Linked DNA regions of Homo sapiens: region 1 is linked to region 2. The links come from fine-mapping of genetic effects on gene expression. A gene starts in region 2. The other region holds a variant in brackets. All regions are shown on one strand. Distances are between the middles of the regions.

The links.
Region 1: its variant is fine-mapped to the expression of SMIM30 in whole blood (TOPMed, PIP above 0.99). The same link has a PIP of 0.9 or more in monocytes.

Annotation. Positions count from the first base shown.
Region 1 is chr7:113,135,919-113,148,695 of GRCh38, reverse strand. It overlaps LOC107986837, which reads right to left. Exons shown (of 4, transcript XM_047421162.1): 3 at 2,921-3,033; 4 at 2,255-2,656. The coding sequence ends at 2,570. Among named protein-coding and RNA genes, the nearest start is that of SMIM30, 24 kb to the right of the region's middle. The variant C/T (reference allele first, on the strand shown) is at 6,195.
Region 2 is chr7:113,111,530-113,124,306 of GRCh38, reverse strand. It overlaps SMIM30 (small integral membrane protein 30), which reads left to right and starts at 5,753. Exons shown (of 3, transcript NM_001352688.2): 1 at 5,753-5,779; 2 at 6,146-6,239; 3 at 6,700-7,589. The coding sequence starts at 6,729. The coding sequence ends at 6,908. The region is part of intron 2 of LOC107986837; the gene reads right to left. RefSeq lists enhancers at 5,354-5,493, 5,388-5,982.

The sequences.
Region 1 (12,777 bases), 24 kb before region 2:
ATTTTAGAAGAGCTGTAGACATCCCCACAGGTATTTCTTCAACTCCCATTCATGCCTCAACTCACTGGGTCTGTTTCTACCTTCACCACTTTCATTAAAGTCATCAATAACCCCTTCCTTGTTAAATCCCATGTGTGCATTTTTGTTCTGTTGCTTAATCCTTGACAGGTTTGTCCACTCTCTCCTACTCCTGAAAATGATATCTTCACTTGGCTTCTGTAGTACTACTTTTTTTTACTTTCTTCTTAACTCCCAAGGGGCTCTGTTTCCACTCACTTTGAATGAAACTCATTCTCTACCTGTTCTTTAAATGTTGATGTTCTCAGGCTCATACTGTGGTCTCCCTTTTTTCACACCCTACCTTATTTTCACCCAACATGGGTGATCTCAACCATCCCTATAACTTCAGTTATCATCTACATGCTGATTACTCCCAAACCAGACTGCAAAGAGCTGACACAATTTCAGCCATCCTGCCTAGGACACTACTCTTTCAGTCTCTGCCTGTGCCCATGGAGTATTGGCACCTAATTTCTAGATATACCAGGCTTCATTTATGAGAAAACAGTCCTCTTTGAAGCTAAAATTGACAAGAAAAAATAAAATATACTATTTTGTCAGCACTTACCTAAATTGTATTAAGTAAACACTAATCTGCATGTTTATTTGTTTAATATCTCTCTTCCTTTGAGCTATGAGGAATGCGGTGGAGATTTTGTCTTATTTACCACTGTATCTCTAGAGTCTGACACAATGGGTTCTCAATAAATAACAGTTAAACATTGATGCAATTTCACTTGGCACCTCTCACCTGAAAGGATTCTCAAGCATCCTTTCTGAGGGGATGTGGTATACCTGATTATATGTAGGTGCATAGGAGTGCAGGACCTACCAAAAGACCTGTCTTGTTAAACAAGACCACATGTTGCTGTTCAACTCAGAGTAAATACAAGCCATGATTATTAATCTGAGTAGACGGGGTTGTGCTACATTAACAAGCAAACCTAAAATCTCAGTGCCTCAAAAATATCAGGTTTATTTTTTGCTCATGCTACATTTCTACTGATGTTCCCTACCAACAGAAGCTGTATGAGAAGTTTTTTGGACCGAATTGTGTCCTCCAAAAGTTATATGTTGAAGCCCTAACTCCCAATGAAACTGTATTTAGAGATGAAGCCTTTAAAGAGGTAATTAAGGATAAATAAGGTCATCAGGTAGGGCCCTAATCCAAGAGGACTGGTTTCCTTAAAAGAAAAGGAAGGGACACAGGGATGCTGGCACACAGAGAAAAGGCTGTGTGAGGACATAGCAAGAAGGCAGCCATCTGCAGACCAAGGAGAGAAGCCTCACTAGAAACCAAACCTGCAGGTACCTTGAACTTGGATGACATCCAGCCTCCAGAACTGTGAGAAAATAAATTTTTCTTGATTGAGCCACCCAGTCACAATATTTTGTTATGGCAGTCCTGGTAAACTAATATAAGAAGTAAAAATGAAGTCACTGATGCCAATAATCCTATTCATCTGGGACGCTGAGCCTGTCCTGTGAAATTTCAAGGACCAGTCAGAGGATTGGTCCAATTTTCATCCACTGCCAATTGGCAAGAATGTGCTGAAGGGCATGGCACATGATCTCACTCTCCAATGAGACTCAAAGTCATTCCAAACAGTCATTCTTTCTATTAAGACAACTCTTCTTCGTAGAGTATTGAACTCTACCTGAGTGGGCAATTCACTAGAAGGCAATTCACCCAGCAGCAGGACACAGCAGATCTTTAGGAAGAAGGTAGCCCTGGTGGATCCAGATAGTCCTCTCCTTAAAAAGAGTTCTGAAATACTGCATTTCCTCAGTAATACAAGTCACAGATGCATTTGGTCTTTGACAGCAGCCCATTTCATCCCTCTCCTAGTCTATCTTCTCCTTACTGGGCTTCCCCATGCTTCCTCCAACTCTATAGGCTTTGCACGTAGACACACTCCTGGAATGTAAACTGAGGAAATGTTCTTATCTGTCTCACTGACCTCTTCCAGCTCTGGATAAATGAGTTATTTTTTAATACCAGACTTAGCAAATCACAACTCTGATTCAGGATGCAAAAAAAAAATGAATTCTGTCATTTAAAAACCAGTAAGTTATCAAAAGTCCCATATATTCTATCACTGTATTCATAAAAAAATATGACAACTTTGCATGTGTTTATACGTTACACAAGTCAGAAATATGATTTTAATTATGCCACAAAACAAAACAACACTGTTGATACAAGGTCTTTAATAAGGTTGGTTACATTGAACAACAAGAAACAAATGCTCTAACAGATTATTTTTAAACCATGTGGTATAATGGCAATGAGTTTATTATCATTTCTAATGACAAAATTAAATATGCAATTATGATTCCCATCCCTCAGTTAGATAGAAAAGGAGTCCCAATCTAAATTCTATGTGATGCCCAGAAATAAAGAATCTGAACAACCGCAGTTATCATGATGACTCTTTGGAGTTAGCTCCCATCTGTCTCTGACGAAGTCTCCAGTTAACCCAGAAGGCGTTATTGCCCTGAGACAGGCTCAGGAAACTCCTAAACCAAAGAAGCTACAGTTTTTGATTGAACAGAAACTCTGAGAATGGATTACCTGGGGAAGTGCCAAGCTGCCCTGAAAAAATACAAAATTTATCATCAAGCTATTGTTGGAACATCTCTACCCTTTGGGAAATCATCCTAAAATTGCTTCCAATCCCAGTGGCTGCTGTCTATCTCAGGCCTTCTACTTCCTAATTGCATTCCCATTTTGATCCCTTATGACTAGATCATTGAGTATCCCTATCTCCATCCTATTTCTTAGCCCTTTTCTGAACTTTCTGTTCCCAAGAGGTTGTCCCATGTGTCTTCTTGGTTCAGGTATTGTCTGACCACTCACAGTGAATTGACTTCTCTCCACAGTCTGCTGCTGCCATCTTTCCACAGCCTCCTCGCCACAGTGTCTTAGGAAGCAGTCATTCATCTTCATGGACCATCCCCACCTCATCTCTTCTGTGTAGCAGCAGAAACAAAAAGAAAGAGGATGTTTTGCTATGATTGAGTTTAGTTTGGTTCTTTGGGGTTCTATCCTTGGCCCTCTGCTCAATGAAGGAGTAGTTTCAGATATTTTCCCCTCATCCCAGACAGAACAACAGTTTCTGATTCACTTCATCCTCCCACTGTCTCCGCCACAACCACACAATACCTTTCAACAGTGCCTTCTGCCAAAAAGCTTGGCCACTTCTGCCCTGAGTCCTACAGGTAAAATTAGCATAAGATTCATGTTTTCTTTTGAACTTTGCTTGACTTATTTTTCTAAAGGTTTTCTAAACTCTCTTGCACTTAAACCCATGTTGTAATGCTGTTAAGTCATTAAAGCAAAGTAAAACAAAGAAAACAGCTTCAGGGTACTGCTTTTTAAAATCTTAAAGGATGAAGTCAAAACAAGAATTTCCAGAGTGGCTCTTTGGTGAGGAGGATCTGATGTCTCAAAACATATATACAGTCACTCCCTACCTCACAGAGAGGCATCCCATAATAGCTCTTCCTTGCTGTGTCTTTCCCAGCAGTTGCCTCCCCTGCAATGCTGCCTGCTGCCTTGCTTCTGTTTGACCTTTGGGGAGGTCTCTGCCCTTTTTCTCAGATGCACCTACTTCAGGTTGCCATCTCACAATGACTGAGGTATTTGCTGTCACTCATTCACCCCATGCATCCAGGAAAGTGATTACAATGCAGTTCTCTCTTTGAATAAATAATGTAGATCTGCTGATTTCTGAATTTACTCTGTGTGGAGGTCAGTTCCAGAAACACTCGTTGCTCTCTCTCCAAAGCTTCTTTTCTCAGATATGTGTAAATGATTACTGTTTATTATCTCTCTTAGTGAAGGAAAGAAAGAAAATAATGAAGAAACACATGTATTGATCACAGATCTGAAGCCAAGCAGTGTGTTACGTGTTTGCACATGCATTTTTATTTTTGCAACAGCTGAGTCTCTGATTTGAACACAGTATGATTCCAAAATCCAGATTCTTCCCAATACATCCCACTGCCATGCGCCACACAGAGCAGATGTCCTTTTAAGAAATATGGGAAGAATAAATATGGGATGAGTGGCTGTTGTGCTAAAAAGAATTGTCTGTGACTTCTGTTCCAGTCTCTCACTGACTTTGCCTCACCTAGTCTCTTGTTCATTTGTTTTTTACCTAAATAGTGCAACCAGAGGGAGCTTCCAGGGACAATGTCTGAAATTTCAGCCTTGTACCCCTCTACCTTTTCAAATAAAAGATTTGTAGTATGCAAGACTTTTCATTTAAAGTAAAATTGCTACATAGATGCCTATGCATAGTTGTGATAACAAATAGGAACACCTAGTAGATGCATTAACACAATATGTATTTGGTTTACTAGTGAAAGCATGAACCTCAGTAACTGGGCATTCAGTGGCTTCATTTTTGTAAGAGAGAAGAGAATGAGGAGAAGGAGGAAGTGAAAACTCAAGGCACTAACAAGGGATGGCCATCTTTAGGAGGGCAGACAAGGAAGCACAACCCAGTTAGTAAATCAAGGGTGGAGTTAGCACACTCAAGGAAGGAGGAGGTAGAAAGAGAAACAAAAGGGTACAAACCCAATCTGGGCCTAAGGGACAACCCCACCTAAACTGATTAGGGGAGAAGAGCTAGAAGGAACGATGAGAAACCAGCAAAAAGGAAGAGAAATTTTCCACAATGGCATCTGAGCTTACCTCTATTACAGAATACATACCATTTTCTGTTGAAAATCTGTTTACTTGCCTGCACCCTCCTTTAGATCATCAGTTTTTAGAGGACAAGGACCTTGTTTATTTAATTTGTGCAGGACCAGAGCCTTGTGCACTGTCTGGCATGTAGCAGAGGCTTGATTCATGTTTGATGGATGAATGAATCAAATCATTTTCCTTTCTTTTCTATTTCCTATGCATAACATCTTGGCTATGAGGAACTGGATGTACTTCATATATGATGGCACTTCAGCTGTCTGAACTGTCATCATATATGAAGTACACTCAGTTTTGAGGAATACCCAGGGTTCTTAGAGGTGCCAGGGGTCCTTGAAATATATAAACTGTGTCATTTACAGAAATGCAGCATACACATCCAACTCAGAACTGTAGCAAACACATCTAACGTCTAACAAATATTGGGTTTTTTAAAGTTTTTTTCAAGTTATTATTTGTAATAGGCATTTTATTTATTTTCAGGGGTCTTTATTTATACTTCTTTACATAATTTATTTTTATATAAATCATTTACATCAGACTCTATTCAGGCTTCTATTACATTATACTTCGATATATGTAAGACAGGTTTAGATGAAATATAGCTAATGGTTCCAAAATAGTTCCTGTAGACATGCTATATATTTTAAACTTAATTTAATTTCCTTCTTACGTACCAGAGAAAAAAAAAGTATGAGTTTTTTTTCCAAGCATCTCTCTTTCCTCATTATCAAAGTATTCATACTGAATTATTTTTAAAAGGCAGCATTTAGTATTCAATCAAATAATGAGAATGTGTTCCTTCCCAGTGGTTTAATAATAATTCTTGCATCACCAACCCTGAATATTCATGTTATGGAAATGTGCCCTACTTCTATAGATTTCATCACTGTCAGCTGGTGCCACAGCAGAACACAGGGACAGTCAGTCTTAATACAGTCAAGATTTCAGCAATTACCAAAGTGTCTTCTCTGACTTACCATCAATAATTCAACTTTTGAGGAATATAATGCTGAGACACAGGAGGCTGACCAACAAATATTCTGCTATTCTTTGGAAAACAGCCACCTAGCTGCATAAAATTGTGATGTCATTTGACTGAAGTCCTGCTTCGGCTCTATCTGCATGACATAAAGACAACTGATCTATTCAGGGAAGAAGTAAATCCATCAAGCCAGTTTTGTTTTGTTTTTTCGTCTTTGGTAAATCAAGTTATAGAATATATTTTTTTCTCTTCATTTTGCTGTTAGAACATAGCTTGTCAGTGGTCTGATATTCATCATCCTCATTTCTCAAAACATGTGTTAATCATGCTTTAACCTCGATTTTCTGTTAGTGGTGTGACCTTGGTCTAGTCAGTCCCTCTAAGAGTCAGTTTCCTCATCTGCAAAATGAGGAAGTGGGATTAGGTGGGGGTCAA[C/T]GAACTTTTTCTGCTCAAGGAGAGATAATAAGTATTTTAGGCTTTGCATGACATATAATCTCTGTTCCAACTACTCAATTCTGCCACTTTAATGTAAAAGCACCCACAGATAATACGTAAATGAATGAGCATTTCTGTGTTCTAATAAAATATTATTTTACAAAAACAGGCAGGTGGCAAGACAGATTTGGCTGCATGCAGTAGCTTGCTGACCTCACTCAAGTCTTTTTCAAGTCTGTGATTCTATATAATAGATACATAAAAAGCACCTAAAGATCAAAAGGCAGAATAAACCTACCAAGTCCCTCAATCATCTAAAATGTAAGGGGCATAGAAATTTCCAATTACAGAATAATTCCTCTAAAAAAGTCAACTAGGCCTAAGTGAACCCAGCTGGTTAACAGATTAACAAAGTTCATTCAACTCTTGCCAGTCAGTGTCTATGTTATTAGTGGCCCTAGCATACACAGATGCCATAAAATTAGGTCCAAGTCTCCAAGCTGTTTGTGTATGAGAAGAGAATATGCACATCAGCTTGCAAGAGTAATAGGATTTCACTCCAGGTTTTTGTTGCCTTGGCATTGAAGAAACTAATCTGCATTAAAAACAACATATTAGGTCACATTGTAGTTTCAAGCTTGCATCTCTGGGTAAAGCACCTATTTTATTTAGTAGCTCAGATGGTAAAAACCCTGAAAGGAAAGGTCATGTATTAATCCTTTTAGATGGTCTGTGAATGTCTACAGTTTCATTCTATTCTGCTACTATGAACTGCATGCACCCAAACACACATGCCATAGTCAGAGAATGCTAACCTGTGGAGACTGAGTAGACAACTGGTGCCGAAAGATGATTCTGTTATATTCAGAACAAGTTTAGACTATTTATGGGGTATAACAATTGCCCAAGAAACATATCCACAGTGACAAAGAATACCAGGATTAAAAAAAAACAAAATGAATGACAGTCTGTTTGGTTTATAGCAGGGCTTCTCAACCTCAGAACCATTGGCATTTGGGCTGGATAATTTTTTGATGTGGAGGACTTCTATGCACTGTAGAATATTTAGCAGCGTCATCGGCCTCTACATACCTAAGTTGTCGGGGTCCCCAACCATTTTGGCACCAAGGATCAGTTTTGTGGAAGACAATTTTTCCAAGGACAGGGGTGGGGGGTGGTTTCAGAATGAAACTGTTTCATCTCAGATGAGACATTAGTTAGATTCTCATAAGGAGCATGCAACCTAGATCCCTCACATGCACAGTTCACAATAGGGTACATAATCAGTCGCTGCTGATCTGCAGGAGGTGGAGTTCAGGCAGTAGTGCTCACTCTCCAGTCGCTTACCTCCTGCTGTATGGCCCAGTTCCTAACAGGCCATAGACCAGTACCAGTCCACGGCCTGGGAGTTGGGGACCCTTGCACTAGATGAAGTAACAGTAACTCCCATTCCCCCTTCCCCTGTCATGACAAACGAAAATGTCTCCAGGCATTGCCAGATGTCCTGGGTTGAGGGAAGGGGAGGGCAAAATTACAGCTAGTTGACAACGTCTAAAGTATAGAAAGTTTAGATATTTAATTGGTCACAAATCATCATCCATACCTCAGAAGTCAAATACTACTCCACACCAAACCTGATATTTACAAATGTGTTATAATGACTTTCCAGGTCCCTTCCAACTAATTCCAACTAATCACAAAACAACAATAAGAAGAAAAGTGGAGCGGGTATTGTCTGGGGAAGAATATTGCTGTCTAAGTCCTTTGTCCTAAACTGTTTCTAACTCTTGTTTAATAGCAATGTTCTGATTTCTAAATTATACACATAGGAGAACCAGACAAGACTCACTATGTCCAACTTCACTCCTAAATTATTGTTCATTATTGCTTGCCTCAGTTACTAGTGAAAAGATCACAGAGCCTTAGGCCATAGCTCAATGTCCTAAAACTCAGTCAGCCTATGTGAACTTCAGCTGTTGAGTTCCTGATCTCAAACTGTTGTTCCAGGACATTGGTCTCTTCATCTACCTTACCTAAACCTCTGCCTGCCTTTCCCAGTTTTCTGAGGGAGTAATGTCTGTACTCCAGACCTACTGCTGGGTCCCTACTACCTGCTATACACTTTCCAGTAAACCATATTCTACTCATTGAGACTTCATTGGGTCATTTCCTTCCTGCTGATATTTTTCCCCATCTGCTCACATATCTGTGTTCCAATTATCCCTGTTCTGTGGGGGTCTCATTGTTGGGTTCTGGGCATAAAATCAATTGCCTACTTATTCATTTTAAAGAAATAGTAATCATAGAAGAAAAAGGAGAGAAGGAACTGTGTGGTTACTTCAAAGGCATCCCATCTTGAAAAGCTTCCTAGTATAACCTGACAACCAGAACTCTATTATTAAAAGAAAAATCATCACAGGATATGCTCTTATGCTATGTTACTATCATATAAGGCTTTTCAACATTCTGAGTCATGCAGAAATTTCTACTGTTCTCTGATATTTTAGACAGAGAGAGCAAAACCAGAAAGATGTCAATCAGGTGATATGATCCATGGAATTGTTCTTCTATGCAAGTTAAAAAAAAAAGTAGACACAATAACAAGTTGAAACTGAACATGAGATTAATTTTAAATCTTACACAAAATCATGTATAACTTCAGCTGGGGAAAATAATGTTAAATCATGTTGAATTACAAATATAGGTATGTATATTCTTATACTCTTCTTTCAGTATCCCAAGGAAAGTTTGTCTATGCATAAAGGTGGCCAGGAAACGTTTATTTAAACACAAAGATAGTTTTTATTTCATCTCTGAGGTCAGGTGGAGAAGAAATTCTGTTTGTTTGACTTATGCTGCATATAATGAGCACCAGTGAAAAATACCTGAATTATAAACACACCAAACTGTGCAGTCTTAACCATGAGACATGCAGGAACTTCAAACACTGGCAGAGAGAAGAGCATGGGCCAGCATCCTGGGTGGGATTCAGGGAATTAGGGTTGGGGCAGACACAGAGGTAGCTCAACCAGCTGAAAGTACAGAGCAGGAGAAGTTAGCTGCTGTACAAATCCCAATGGGAAAGAGGCCTTCCCCAGTGCTCAGAGTGGGGTTACTTCCATAAAGACCTATAGAGTAGAGCTCAGCAGCAGGCAGAAACCACAGTAATGTTATGGTTCAAGGAGGGTCCATCTGATTGGAAGCACATCTCAAGCCAACAACTCAAAGGGCATAGATAGTGAAAGGGACAAGAAGTGTGGGGTTGAGAAGTTCTGTTGAATAGAATGGCTGTCAGGCCTCTGTTGAACATACTGGGTTTCAGTTCAAGGCTTGAGTCCCAGATGGCAACGTAAGTACAAATCAGGAAGAAGGCCAGATATCCAAGAAGTCAGTTTCCAGAATCCATTCACTGGAGAGGATAAGATTCTAATATTCCTAAGCCTTGCTCATGCATTCATGCAATCTTTTGTTCAACAAATGCATACTAAACACCTACCAAGCACTGCTAGACACTGTTCTTGGCTCTGCAGAGTCGATGGGGAAAAATAAACATAGCCCTGGTTCTTATAAAGAGCTTTGCTGGAATTGCTTTGAGGCTTAATTAGCACTGAATATATAGATTACAAAACATCACATCAGGGCTAATAGACACTACCAGCGCTAGCAAGATCAAATGGCCTGTGCCCTTGAAAAATTCTGCTCCATCCCAAAGGTAGCCAGTTGGGTAGCAAGAAAAGAATATAGCGGATGTGCATTCTGCCCACACCCACTATGAGGAACTTAGTTCTACCACCTTAAAAGCATTGCTAAATAATAAATGGAGGCCATGATGATGATGATGAGCAGTAGTAATAGTTATTTAATTGTTTTGGGATCCAGCCAAGAGCCAGAAATCATACAGGTTAAACAGAAAGAAATTAATATAAAGAATTGTTAATTTTGGCCGGGTGCAGTGGCTCACGCCTGTAATCCCAACACTTTCGGAGGCCGAGGCGGGCAGATCACGAGGTCAGGAGACGGAGACCATCCTGGACAACATGGTGAAACCCCGCCTCTACTAAAAATACAAAAAATTAGCTGGGCGTGATGGCATGTGCTTGTAATCCCAGTTCTTCGGGAGGCTGAAGCAGGAGAATCCCTTGAACCCACGAGGTGGAGCTTGCAGTAAGCCAAGATCGTGCCACTGCACTCCAGCCTGGCGACAGAGTGAGAATCTGTCTCAAAATAAAATAAAATAAAATAAAATAAAATAAAATAAAATAAAGAATTGTTAATTTTATAAAAGTTGTTAATTAAGTACTGAAATGGCAAAAAGAGAACTCTAAGGTATCATAGAGGTAGCAACCATTCCTAGAATTCGAGGAACAAAATGAAGATATTAGAATTATTAACAGTTAGAAGCCTGGAGCACAGGCCTCACAGACTCCTGAGGAGAATCTGATGGTGCTGAGTCCCTGAGCTTAGCGGGAGGAGGCATCCCATGGTTCTGGGTCCCAGATCTCTGAAGAAGGGGAGCCAGCGACTGATGCTGACTCTGTGAGTGTCAGGGAAACCACAAACTGGACTCCTCTGCTGCTATTGGAACAAACTGCTGCTGCAAGACTGAAGAGGCATTGCTGGGTGATGCTCATGGGAAAAGAAAGCCAGCAGAAAGCAAATAGGAAGAAAAACAAAAACAACAGCAAAAAAGAAAGAACATGTTCCATCTACCTCCTCCTGCTTACAATTTCCTGTAGTATCCCCAACTGACAGGGTTTAACCAATCAAAAAAGCAGAAACATGGTTTGCAGATGCCCACAGCCCATGTATCAAAAAGCAAAATGTAGACAGTTGGGTTTGAAGCTGAGAGATGTTAGTTTAATAACCAACCCAGTAATCAAAGGCAAATTCTTTACCTTCCTGAGACATAGTTTATAAAATAAGGACAATAATGCCTAACATAAAAAGTCATTTTAAGAATTAGACAAAATGTGCATAAAGCACTTCACATAGTGCTTGACAAATAAAATGCATTATTTCACAACAGTTAATCATTTCCACTCCTGCCTTATCATTCCAAGTACACCTGCTATCCCAGTACCTTTCTTAAACAACCACTTCGTAGAACTCCACATGTGGCCTAATCTATTGCCAGGATGTATCTCAGTAGGAAAAAGCTATTTGTAAGGCCTTAGCCAACACGGAGTTCTTCCAGGTTGGAGATGATATATATATCTTGTATTTTAACTTCCTTCCCTTCCTGTAATCCTGAAAATATGGCCAAAAATTTTCACCCAGATTCTCCTTTGCCCTTGCCACTATCAACCCAAGAGGCCAGCTCTTCCGGTCCATGAAGACACATTTAAGTTCCTTCTCTCTTGCCCATGAAAATTTCTAGCAAGATTTAAAAGTTGATCCAACATCCCTCACCCTAAAGAACAGTCTTTGATACCTTGTGGCCTGGGAGGATCACAGGCCCAAAATGTGAACATAGGAACCCACACCATTTTTCTGATGTTCTCAATCTGGCAGCCATTTCTGCTCAGCATCGTTTGAGACAGCAGAGACCTTAGTTCTAGGAAAGAGAAGTATTGACAGTAGAGTAGCATCAGGTGCTGTGTGGCACATTTTAGAGGCAAGAGCTACCATGCCCATGAATGGTCCATAAAAACCAACTCCTGCAAAAAAGCAAAATGTAGTTCTTCTATCTCACCTGAAACTATGTGTTCCTAATAGTTTACTCCTTTCCTGATCAATGGCTCATTGGTTTTATCTTTATTATTTATAAGACCTTGGAAATTTTTTTAACCTCTAAGCTTTGTTCGATTCCTTGTGAAATGGCATTCCTAAAACTGTCCCACAAATTTGTAACAGGGATTAGATAAAAGAACATATGCTCAGAGAAACGGGGAAATAGTGAATTGTTTAATGAATATAGACTTTCAGTTTTGCATGACAAAATAGTTCTGGAGCTCTGTTATAAAACAACATGAATATACTCAACATTACTGAACTATAGTCTCAAAAATTGTTAATAAATTTTATGTTTGTGTCTTTTAAGCATGTTTTTAAAAATGTTTATTGAATGAATGAATAAAAGTTACTATTATGTATGCACACATGTGCACGCACACACACACACACATACACACACAGACACAAGAATACATATTCATCACTCATCACAATGCCTGGCATATCATAAGATTCAAATATCTATGAGGTTCTGTCTGTTTCCCTTTGGAGTGTCCCAAGAATCTCTTCTCTTCAGCCTCACCTGCATGAATTTTTAATTTCTCTTCTTCTGAACACGGTGGGGATTTAATGACATTCTGTTTAGTACTACTCCTCAATGGTTCCATTTGAGCATGTTTTATCTTGCCAAATAGATCTTCAGCTCCTGCCAAGAAGGCACCATATCTTATTTTATGCTCCCCTTCATGTCCAGTGCAATCTTTGCATTAACTGTTGGCTGGGATTCTACTCCAGATGAGATGGACTCTCTGAGAGTCATAGCCTTCCAGTCGCCACTGCCTGTTCTTGGGCCCCACCCATCTTTATAAATCAATATTTACTTATTGATTAGTTCATGCAGAGATCTCAA
Region 2 (12,777 bases):
ATAAGAAAAAATGTCATTTGATACATATACAAATAGTAAAAAGTATTTGTATTTTCCACTTCATCAATAACTGAGAAGGGATCCAGGAAAGCAAGATGAATAATTCTAACTGGGTCTTGTTAAATGCATCATTAACTTAACGTCAGGTTAATGTCATTCAGTTGCCCCTATGTCACCACTTCCCAAATAATCAGCCTCCATAAAATGGCAAAGGCTCTAAGACCAAATGAACCTAAGAACTACCAGGAGAACTTATTTTAAAGTTTTGCATTTTAAAATAAATTCCCCATATAATTGGGATGCAAGTGAAACACAGAACACACTTTGAGAACACTCTTCCAGGACCAATTTTGGATAACTTGAATAAACTCTGTCACTCTTCCCTGGATCCTCTACTGTCTGTGTAGGTCCCTTTTAATGTCTGGTCACCAAAGATACGTACGGTATTCTATTAAGGAGTTACTGAAGCAGGGCAGATGAAAGGATTATGTCCCTTCCCTTATATAGCCACCACAAATACATTCACGAGTGTTGATAGGCATGCTCGCAAAAGCAGTGCTTCATTCTGGCTGTCAGATTGAGGTCAATTACTTATTTTGACTCTCCTGAGATACGAGAGCGTAAAATGCATTAAAATGAGTCCAAATCAAAATCAAATGAAACTATAGTGTTGTACCGGACTTTTTCCTCAACTGAACCAGTTGCAATCTTTTTAATATAACCTATTCCACCTTTAAGATAAAGAAATTATCTTTAAAGTAAAATGGAAAATCTGGCAACCTCCTTGAGTAAACTTATTCTTGCAGAAAGTAAGATTTTTGTCATTTTAAAAATTATAAAGATTTTTAATTCAAACAACATTACTTTAGAGTATTTACAGACAAGTAGTCTGTTGTCTTAATGGTCTCAAGGAATAGATTTATAAACAATCAAAATATTACAAGCAAGAGTAAAGAAACTTTACTATTGCCATCTCACTCACCGTTTCATAGATAAGTAAATCATTCCGTGACACAGAAACTGATGTTTTACCATAAAGTGTTCTACTTGGACCACCTATGTGATTTAGCAAAAGAAAGAAATTTAGAAACTAAAAGTGACTGATCACTTACAGTATGTCAACTGGAAATTCACAATAAATGTCTACATAAAAGGTTCAAGTACTCATTTAAGCTTCCAGAATCAATTTAAAAGTAACCACTTCCTAGATACTGCTAACCAATACATTCTAGCCTTATATACACTGCAACATGTCTAGATTGACTCAAAAAGGTATTATCAAATGAACAAAGTGAGATATCCAAAGTGTAAATTCAGTTTCTCAAATTGAGTGATTTTACTCAAAAAATGGCCAGACAGAAATTTCATAAGTCTTTCAATTCAAGGGAAATCAAGCTAAGACTGGTTGGGGCAAGATTCACTGTCCTAGGCTATTTGCATTTTCTATCCAGCATGTCTTTAATTTTATAAATTTCATGCTGTTTGTTTCCATGGTTACCAGCTCTTAATCATAATGAGCACCTGGTCTACACAGGGGAATTAATATTTCCCTGTGAAATGCACATACTGAATTGTTAGTAACCTCCCTACATTTTTGCAGGGACTAGTTTAAACTCTTGACCCCTAGCAAAGATTTTCTTTTTTTTTTTTTAACTTTTGAGCTTTGGGGGCACATGTGCAGGTTTGTTACATAGGTAAACACGTGTCATGGGGGTTTGTTGTACATATTCTTTCATCACCCAGGTATTAAGCTCAATACCCAATAGTTATCTTTTCTTCTTGCAAAGATTTTCAAAGGGTCTCTTTAACTTTCTTTTTGAATTTTGTATATTATATGGACTTCAGTTATTTCATGATAATTGAAATTTTCCAACATTTCACAATCTATGTTGACAGGGAACATCTATGCTCGTTAGTATGTGTGCTTTTGCGCCTGGGTCAGATATACTTCAATTTTTAAAAAAACACTTTTTTGTACATATTTATTAAATCTCAGTCAAAATCCACTGATAAATTAGGTGAATACTGGCACCCCCTCATTCACCACACTAGGGCCTAGAGGGAAGTACACAAACACCAGCAACCCCTCAAGTAGTCAACATGATTAGGCTTCCTAAGCGACATTAGAACACCTTATTAAAAAGAAAATTAAAATGGTTTTTGATCCTGTGGACATTTTCCACATAACAGTATGTGGACAATGATTAAAAGTATAAAGTTTGTCATATTTCCTGGATATATACCACTCACTAGTTATGTGACCTGGTGTAAATTACTTAACTATGCCTCAATTTCTTCATCAGAGAATAATAATAGTATCCAGTTCACAGGATTATTTTAAGGAGTAGAGGGGCTTATATTTATTAATGTGTGGAATAGTTACTGGTGCATATTAGTCACTATTTTAAGTGTTTGTTAAATATAAATGTCAATCAATCAATCTGACCCTATGCAGCATGAAACCATGTTTTCTAAGAAAATCTTTTTTTCCATAATAAATGTTTGTTCATCTCTCATGATGTAAGCTAATTCTGATTTTAAATTTCCTTGTGTAGCACTTAATAAATATTATTTGATCAGCTACTTCCATCTCTGAAAGGTCGTCTGTTGCCAATAATAGTGTCACTTACACTGACCACACTGAGCCACTTTACATGTCACCTCATTCAATCTGCATTAACAACCCTATGAAGATTGGTGATCCCCTTATTACAGATGAGAAAACTCAAGTTTCAGGAAGTTAGATAATTCGCACAGGTTTACAGAGTTAGAAAGTGGCAGAGGTAAATTTGGAATCAACCTCTGATGATCTCCAAACCCTGTCTTAATCAGTCCATTACCACGGATAAAGTGCTATATAGATAATGTCACAACTTTTCAAAACTAGAACTTTGTCATATCCAGTAATTTTTAACCTACTCCAAGAAGATCAGCAATATAAATAAAAGTGGAATCTGTCATGCCTATGAGTGGGGTTTCTCTACTTCCCCATCCTCCACAAGCTTCCGTGTGTGATTGATTCCCACAGACAAATGACGATCACCAGTGGGAGTAAGGACCACATACATAATGGGCTCTAGGTGGTGCCTGGAACTTTGCCCAAAATGACCTTTTGCACCTCTCCCATACACTTCTGTAAATGCTGGTACAAGAGGTACTTAGCCTCAGGAGACGTTTTCTGCAGTAGTTGAACAGCTCTGGAAAGTGTAGCTTCTCCCATCCTTTTGACCTAATGAGTAGTTAGTTCTAACATTCTCAGTGATTAGTCCTATTAATGATGGGAAATACTGACTAGGTCTGGGTTGGTCTTTTTTAATTGTGAAGCTCCAGTAAAATGTTTCGACTCACTTGGCTTGGCTCAATTGCTAATGAGGAAGTCTGGGTTTTATAAATTCCCTGACACACACCAGTCACTGCAAAATCCTGATATTGGCCTGTCCTGCATCCTCTGATGGATCCCAGAGGTGCCTTCCTTCAGGGCCTACCAATGACTCACTTCTAACAGAAAAATGAGCAGAAGCCACTTCCTTTTTTTTTTTTTTTTTTTTCCTGAAACCATTTCTGGGTAACAACTGATGGAAAATTTTGCTCTCCACTGCTCAGGTAAGTAACTAAAGTAAAGTGCTTTAAGTATCATTGGTGCCATTGATCTCTATTTCAGTAAAGGATGGTGTAGGTGCAGATTTGTTTGAATCGAAAGACTAAATTATGGATTCTATAACCCTAGACACTTAGTGTCAAAAGAACAACTACATAGAAGCCTGTAGAAACATTCATACAGCTTGGGAAAAATGGGAGTGTAGCATTGCTTCAGAAAATTGGTGGTTCACATTGCTACCAGAGATGTTCACAGGCAGAACTTGTAGTTGGCAGATGACGGACACAGAAGCAGCTTCTCATCTATCATCGCCTTTTTTAGAAGAGAGACCAAACATGTACAACATGGCAGTTATTATCCTGGTCAGCAATCTAGCCAAAATATCTAACCTGGTTTACAGCTAGGAAATAACAGTTCACTGAGATAGAGTGAAGGCATGTTAAAAATCACACAGTAGGAGCAGGTCAAAGCAGTGAAGGAGATTATCATATTCATGGTACTCCAGAAATTAATCCTTGCAACTACATCAGCTATTACTGGAACCCCGCCCCCGAGATCGACATTTCCCAATATAATATATATTTCACAAACTAATAAAAACCATCATAATTTAAAGAGAAAGTTTCTTGCCACTTACAGACTCTTTAAACTTAAAACCAAACCATTATCTTTAATGTTGACGTGCCTAGAAACAAGTCTGTAACAATACTAACTTTAAAGTAGTCTCTGCTGACTTCAGCTAACTAAAATAAACACATAAGGAAAAATAAACATGTAGGGAAAAACAAAATGTTCACAGTAGGATATGAGAGAATATTTTGGAAGCTATAAAAATATAACTCCTATTCCAAATATAATTGATTACAAAGGCACGAAAGTAGCTCAAAACAAAGGATGAAATGAACAAAACCTTGTTAAAATAATCAAGGTTAGAGAAACAATGCTGACGTTATTGTGCAGTTATTCTCAGATTTCCAATTTTCTAGTCACCTTGGTTTGGTTTATTTGGCACCTCTCGGTCTCTCATAAGATCTTGTTGGCATATTTATCTAGTCAAATCATTATTATTATTAGGCAACATTACTGAGCACCTGCTGGGTGCCGGTTAGGAGCCAAGAATATAAATCTTTGCTAGAGAGACTAGGAACGTGTAAGAAAAAGGGTAACCGACAACACAAGAATACATGCTAATTATTGGCATTGAACTGAACGTACCTGCATTATCTAACAGACTGAACCAGGGGACTTTCAGACCAGGCAGGTGGCTTCACACCCAACCCTCATCATTAATAATTTATAATGTAAGGATAGCAAATAAATTTTCAAATCAGTAAATATGAAAGAGTTCAGAAGATCAGATGACTAGAAAGGTTCAGTAAGGAGTTCACAATTAGCAGACAATTGAAAGAGCGCCTTTCAGAAAGGTTACGACTTACATATACAAATAACTAATTCTTGTTTTATGATTTAAAAGCAGTATTTTTACATCTTTTCACAAATATGTAGGGACATTTGGGGCTGAGGTTTCACAAAAACATAGGTGGGAAGGAATCACCGCAGTGCACTCCTGAATAGATTGTCACTTTAGGACCTGAATCCTGAGAGATCTTCTGCAACAGGGCTAAACCCATTTTTCCTAAACTTTATTTTGCACTACAAATGTTTTTTAACCTTTTACGATATGTCTTATTAACCGCGCTTTTTCCCCATTGACTAAAAAATTAATAAATGGCATATGTTTCATTAGGAAGATGGTGACAGAGATTTCCTGCTTCAGAAACGTTGGAAGCCACTGGTTTAAAAGCACCCGGAACAGAGGGCTGTACTTGGGTTCTCTCTCCCCGCTGTGTCATTTCAGTCGAAGAAAAAGACAAAATTACATGTGCGCCTTACAGACTCAACAGGGTAGAAAACACTTGCTATCATTTCTTTTATTTTGAAGTGAGCTTTTATATAAACACACGAAACCATCTATTTAATAGTAAAACGTTGGGCAGGGAAAGGAAGTCCCGCGCGTTCGCGACTCTTCGCCTCCGCTAGAGCGTGACCGTCACGCCCTCTGCTACTTATAGGGGGAACGCGCCGGGGCATCATAGGAGTCGGCGGCGGCAGGGATTGTGGGAAATGTAGTTTGGAGACTCCGCCCTCCTCGCCATTCCTGTAATGGCTGCTTCCTAGAAGGTAATGTACGAACTCGTCTCCAAAGGATACTTAGGTTGCACCAGTGTATTTGTAAAACAGGAGCAAATTTGGACCTTGCCGGGCCAAAGTACGAATTCTTTTTCAAATCTTAATATCAAGTCCTGAAATGAAATTATCTCTGTTCTGTTTCTTTTTACCTTTTCTTGTGTGGGTGAACTGACCAACTTTTAAGTCTAGTTCCCTGTTGGACAGACTTTTCTCAACTCATTACCTATCCCCCTACCGTCCATATGGCCTCCACGCTCTGCACTGACTCTAGCTGCCTCTTTAAAATAATAATAGTAATAATAATTAATTTTTAAATCCTTCTCTCCGCCCCCTCCCCACCCCCCATGCTAATAATAGGTCGTGTCACGTGGAACCTCTTAATCTCAGCATCCGGAGCTCCAGGAAGGGAAAATTTCAAGTCAGATAGAATTCTATATATACCATTTCTTTGGTAAGTCTTATTAATTCCCCACAACTTCGCAGAGTTATATGTTGTGTGACTTTTGCCAAATTTGTCTGCATTTCTTGGATGGGAGAGACCCTAAGAAAATGTACAATTTTTACCCACTAGGATATTTTAAGTTTCCAAGTTAGTGGCTCGTGCTTTTTTTCTGTTTGTTCTTAATTATGAACTCCTGTTCAATTTTTGTTTGGTTGATGCACGAGGTGTTGGCATTATCGTGGAAAATTCCTGGGTTTAGAGTGTTATCACGAGATAGGGAGATGAACCTCAAATTACTGTCTTTAACGTCCCTCTGTTTTTCCACCTATAAGATGAGGAGATGGATTGGAAATGATTCATAAAGTATCCAAAAGATTGGCTGGCCTGTTATTTGTCATGTGTTCATTTTGTCATTTGAAAAGGGAGGAATTTTTAATGGTTCCTTTTTGTTTCCATGTTTAATTTCTAGGAACCTTCAGCCCTCAAGATTCCAACATCATGACCTCAGTTTCAACACAGTTGTCCTTAGTCCTCATGTCACTGCTTTTGGTGCTGCCTGTTGTGGAAGCAGTAGAAGCCGGTGATGCAATCGCCCTTTTGTTAGGTGTGGTTCTCAGCATTACAGGCATTTGTGCCTGCTTGGGGGTATATGCACGAAAAAGAAATGGACAGATGTGACTTTGAAAGGCCTACTGAGTCAAACCTCACCCTGAAAACCTTTGCGCTTTAGAGGCTAAACCTGAGATTTGGTGTGTGAAAGGTTCCAAGAATCAGTAAATAAGGGAGTTTCACATTTTTCATTGTTTCCATGAAATGGCAACAAACATACATTTATAAATTGAAAAAAAAATGTTTTCTTTACAACAAATAATGCACAGAAAAATGCAGCCTATAATTTGCTAGTTAGGTAGTCAAAGAAGTAAGATGGCTGAAATTTACATAAGTAATATTTCATAATCTTAGAATTCTCTCAAAGCATGTGAAATAGGAAGAAGGAAGTTCTTGCCCAGAATCTTAGGAAATCACCACTGTTCGGTTATAATCACTGCCTCCTGAATCGTTGAGGAGTCTTTTAAATTAGATTTTTGTTTTGTTGTCTCCCAAGTTAATATTATATTTAGATATCAGAGAGTCAGGCAAAAAGGAAAACTTTTATCTCTAGGGAAAAAACATTTAGAAAAATGTATTCAGTGTATCTAATACTGAAATGCGGAAAAAAATTTAATGTTAAAAAAAAACTATAGACATTGACATGGAAAAGAGATTTAATGTTTTGAAAAAAAACTTTATATTAACTGAGTAACATCCTCCTGATGAGAAGTACTATATTAAATATAAACCCATTATGTTATAAGTTAATGTTTCGTGTCCATTTCTTATTTGGGGCTGTTTGTATCCATTGTGGATTTTTATATGAGCTAAGTGGAGAAGGGCAGGATGCCTTGTGTTAACTGATTGCGGTAGCTTGAAGAGACATAATGAGAACTGGGCAGCATTAAGGTCAGAGAAGCCCCTGATAGAAAATCTAGAAATATAGAAGGAAAATGAAATGGCTTAAACTGATTTGTACGCCAGCCAAACGAAATATCCTCTCTGGCCTAGCTACTTAAAGTGTCTTCAAGCCAGCAACATCACCTGGGGCTTGTTAGAAATGCAGAATCTCAGGCCCCACCCAGACCAATTGGATCAGGAACAGCATTCGTTTCCAAAGCCCAAGTTAATTTGTATGCACATTACAAATTTAAGAAGACTGCCAACTTGCTTGAGCCCAAGAATCATTCCAGGCACTTGATAAGACTTTTTGATTCCCTGGTCTTTCTCCTGGTTGTATAGCTGTGAGATGGGGCCTGGAACTCCATGTCTAACAAGGGTCCTCAGTGATTCATTTGATTCTCAAGTTGTAGCCAGCATAAAGTAGTCTAAGGAAATCAAACTTTAGGGTCACACTGGAGGTAAGTAGTGAAATTTTTTCCTAAAATGCATTTTCCAATCTGTAGCTCTCCAGATGACATTGGGAGCCTCATTTTTTATCCAAAAACAGGCACTAGCAACCTAAAGTCCTGTTTATGGTGTAATTCTAGAGTGAGCTGACTTGGCTTGCATGAAAGTTTTGGTTAAAGTGTACAAGGAGTGAAGAAGCATCACAGAATAAAGACATGGAAACTGAATGCACTTGTTTTTGTCACAGCTGTTTCGATTTTTTGCTAGAGGAAGCACTAACAGTCTTTATTCAAATTAATTGGCAGTTAAACATTTCATAATTAATATAGCTTGATTGTACCTGCATTTTTTTGTGTGTTTTAAAGAAGGAAAAAGGAATGATGCAAGTTATAGAACAATTGTCATCTCTTATACTCCAGCCCATTGGGTGCTGATGTAGAAAGGCTGCTGCGGCTTCCTTGCATGTCAACTTTTCCATTGGGATGGGAGAAATCAAACCTAAAGTACATTTTAAATCACAGTGCAGTAGTCACTTAGTCACCTCCAGGTACTGTTTTTAAAATGTTCAAAATAAGACTATAGGCAAACATTCTTTGGTCAACGTGTATTTCCAAAAGTGCCTAGAAAGAATTAGAAAACTGCCATTTCCCTATTTTCCCCTTAAAAGTAGAGAATTGTCTTGAGGTGGCATGCAGGAATTTTGATGGATATGATGGGGGAACACCTCCTCTAAAAATAGCCTCATTTCTCATCTATTTAGGTTGGATTATATGGCTTTGCCTGAAAAGAACAGAACCCTTATGGTGGCTCTTAACATTTTTAGGCCACCAGTTCCTTTGAGAATCTGATGAAAGCTATCATCTTTTTCTTTAGGAAAATTCCCATGCATGCTGACATTTTTAGATTAGTTTCAGAGCTGAAGCCCATCCAGGATCTTTCCAATTCTAAAATTCCTTGATTTTCTATGAGGGATAACACCTGCTGTGGAGCAGTTACAGCAAGAATGGCATTAGCAAATATTCTGATGCCCAGCACAATTTGTAGATATCTAGTAAATGCCTTGTGCATGTTAGCTCACTGAGTTGAGTTAAAAATAGTTGAGATCAAGTGAAGAATTTAAGGTCCTTGCAAATACTTATATTTCTGTTCTCTGTAGTTTTAATGTAACCAGCTTAGTTCTCTAATGCTAAAAATCAGTACATTTCCTGCATCATTTCTCTCTTAACTGCTTTCATAACTCTTCTTTGTCATTAATTTTTAGAAGTTTGTGATATATCTCGGCATGGATATATCTTTGGGTTTATCCTGTTTGGGGTTCACTCGGTATCTGAGACTTACAGTTTTATTCTTTTTTCCCAAATTCAGGAAATTTTCAGCCATTCTTTCTTTTTACAAAAATTTCGCTCCACTTTCATTCTCCTTTTCTTCTAGGACTCCAGGGACCCAATATTAGATATTTTTGTTATAGTCTGATGCATACCTAAGGCTCTATTTATTTTTTCAGTCCTTTTTTTCTCTTATTCAGATTGGGTAATTTCTAGTATTGTATGCTTAAGTTCACCGTTTCTGCTGTTGTATTTTTTGTTCAAAACTTTCCATTTTGTTCTTTGTGTCTTGTGTTTCTTTGTGGAGACCTGTTTTTTCATTTGTCTCAAGCATGTTTGTGATTGTCACTGAAGCACCTTTTCATGGCTGCTTAAATCCTTAATAATCCTAACATCTCTGTCACCTCGGTGTTTAGCATCTGTTGATTGTCTTCTCATTCAAGTTGAGATCTTCCCAGTTCTTAGTATGATGATGATTTTTCTATTGACATTTGGACATTCTGGGTATTATATTTAAAAGGCTGTGGCTCTTATTTAAATTTTGTATTTTAACATTCCTCTGACACCACTCCTTCGTAGAAAGGGAGGATGCCTCCTCCTTCCTGCCAGATGCAGGTGGAAGCCTCATGACTGCTCCTCCTATACCCTCCACTGACACTGGTGATAGGTTGCCTTGTTACCACCAGGTGGGAGTGGAGTCCAGGCTACCCACATGGTCTTCATGGGTACCAGCGTAGAAGAGGGAGGTTCTTACTATCAACTGGTGAGGATGAAAGTGCCAGCTCCCCACCCAGCCTTCTGTGATACCTCAGTGGGGAGCCTGGAACATCTACAGCCTGGTGAAAGTGGAGGTCTTGGCACTCCACTCAACCTTTGCTGATGGTGGAAGTGGGGCTACAATTCTAAAAGTTTTCTGTTTCACTAAGCTACACCTTTCCTATACCTTTAAATACTAGAGAGAATAGTCTTGTTTGGTTTCCCACCCCCCCACCCTTTTTTTTTTTCGGTCTAAGCCCGTTGGCCTTTCTGTGCTACCAACTTCTCCAGTTCTCAATCTGAAACAGGAAGAAAAAAAAAAAAAACCAGCTAACTCACCACTTTGTTGTTCCTTTGCTCTTGAGGTACCCAGCTGTTGTGCCTTCTTTCTGCCTTTCAGAATCCTATGTTTGTTTTATACATAATGTCCAGGGTTTTTAGCTATATTTAGTGGGAGGAAAAGGAAAAAAGATGTCTACTCCATCTTTCTAGAAGTATAAGTCTTGGTGCATATTTAAAGAGGGAATTTTCTGAGCTACTCCAGAGATGGAGAGATAAAACACCAGGAAAGTGATTACTTCAAGGTATTTTACTCACAGACTTTTGTCCCGTCATCTCCCACATCCACCTTCCCCTCTTCACCCATCCAGCATATTGTTTATTCCTACCTTAACCCAACAGTCTCAACTAGGGAGTGAGACTAACCATCAAGAAATGCAGGGACGTAGATGAAGTTTGAGAAAATGGGCTGTATTCATATTTTGTCTCAGCATTGAGACTGCAAGTGGGAGCTTCTTGAAAAACTGATGTGATACCAATTGTGCCAACTAGCCAGGTCCAGGAAATCTCAGAAGCTACACCTCACATGCACCTGTGTCCTGCTGGGCTTTCTAGCTCTGTACCAGCTTATCAAATGCCATTTCCAACCTTGGATATAGGAATGGTAATGCAGCTATATAGCCTGCAGCACATAATGAATGGAGGAGAATTTTCTGCATATGACCCATCTCCCAGCCAGCGACTCTCATAACAGTCTCTTCAGTGGTACTATAATAGAGGCTAAGGGTCCAAGCTGTGGAATTTAACAGACGTCTCTCCAAGAATTAAAATGTCATAATGGGCAAGTCACTTATTTTCTCTTAAATTGCTATCTCCTGTCTGTTAATTGGATGTAATAATAGTATTTCTCCACTCCACCTCCTAGGTAGATGAGAAATATCTAAGGTAGTGTATGTGGAAGGGTTGGCTTGCTGTATGTTATTATTTTTAGGAGTATTTAGAGATATTTCCTAAAGAGAAGGGGGAAGAAACTTTACAAGCATCAATTTTGAATTTTTAAAGAGGATATCTTAAAAGTTATATGAACAAATCCTATATCAAACTTTAATTTTAATTTTGACATTTTCCCAAGTCCTAACAGGCCCTTGAAGATGATACTCAGTCTTTGTTTTTTCTTATTATAGTCCTTCCCAACACACACAATTCTAGCTTACAAACTGATAAAGCTCAAAGACACCTGTGAAGAAAAGAAAATTCGACTACCCTAAAATTTTTTTAAATCTTCTGGTTTGTACCTCATGCTTTCGAAGGGGAAAAAAAGGAAAGAAAATAATTGATTATTTTTTAATGATTCTTAATACGTTAACCATGGGTTCCTTCCTAGGTAGCATAACAGAAGGTTAGCAGCAACTGCCCAGGTCATTTAAGGAGAGGCAAGGAATTTGGTTTTTCCTGTTCAGGAAAATAGCAGATCTGGTCCATATTCCACCAAGAAAAATACTTACAAATCTCATCTCATTAGAAGTCATGAAATTATAAACTACATATAATGTGTTTAATGTTTGTTTCCTATGGTGGGGAGTAGAGAGGAAGCCCTTATCTTGATTTACTAATCCCAGACATGATTTTCACTCATAGGTGAAAATGGGGCCAAATCAATAAATAAATTTGCAGAATAGCATGTTTATTTTTTTTCTAATTTTCAGTAACTTCATTTTTCTAAATACTTTCTATAACTGACTAATATACATCTAACATCTAAATGCAAAATGCAGAAGACCAGAAAAATATATGATTGCTGCAAAAAAAAGATAATGTCGTTTAATTTCTCATTGATTTATAAGTATCAGAGCTAAAGTACTCTTCTCACATATTTCCACTGGATCCATTTTATGTGGGTGATTAAAATTTTGAAAATATTAGTTGGCACTTCATAATATGAAATGAAATTATGAAATTTTATATACAAGAGGGTTAATTATTTTTAAAGGGCTAATCATGTAGCACTTTGTTAAACACAGGGATTATAAATACTGTATTTCTCAATATTAATCAAGATAATTATGCTCTGTTTAAATGTGCGTAAATCACTTAACAAAAGAATTTAGAAGCAGGCATGAGCACCAAGAGCAGAAACTATACCATTTTCTATTTCAGATTATTTGTCACAACAACCCTTTCATTCTGCCACAAAAATTACCAGGGCATTTCAATACCAACATGAAACAGTTTTATAGCCCCTGAGA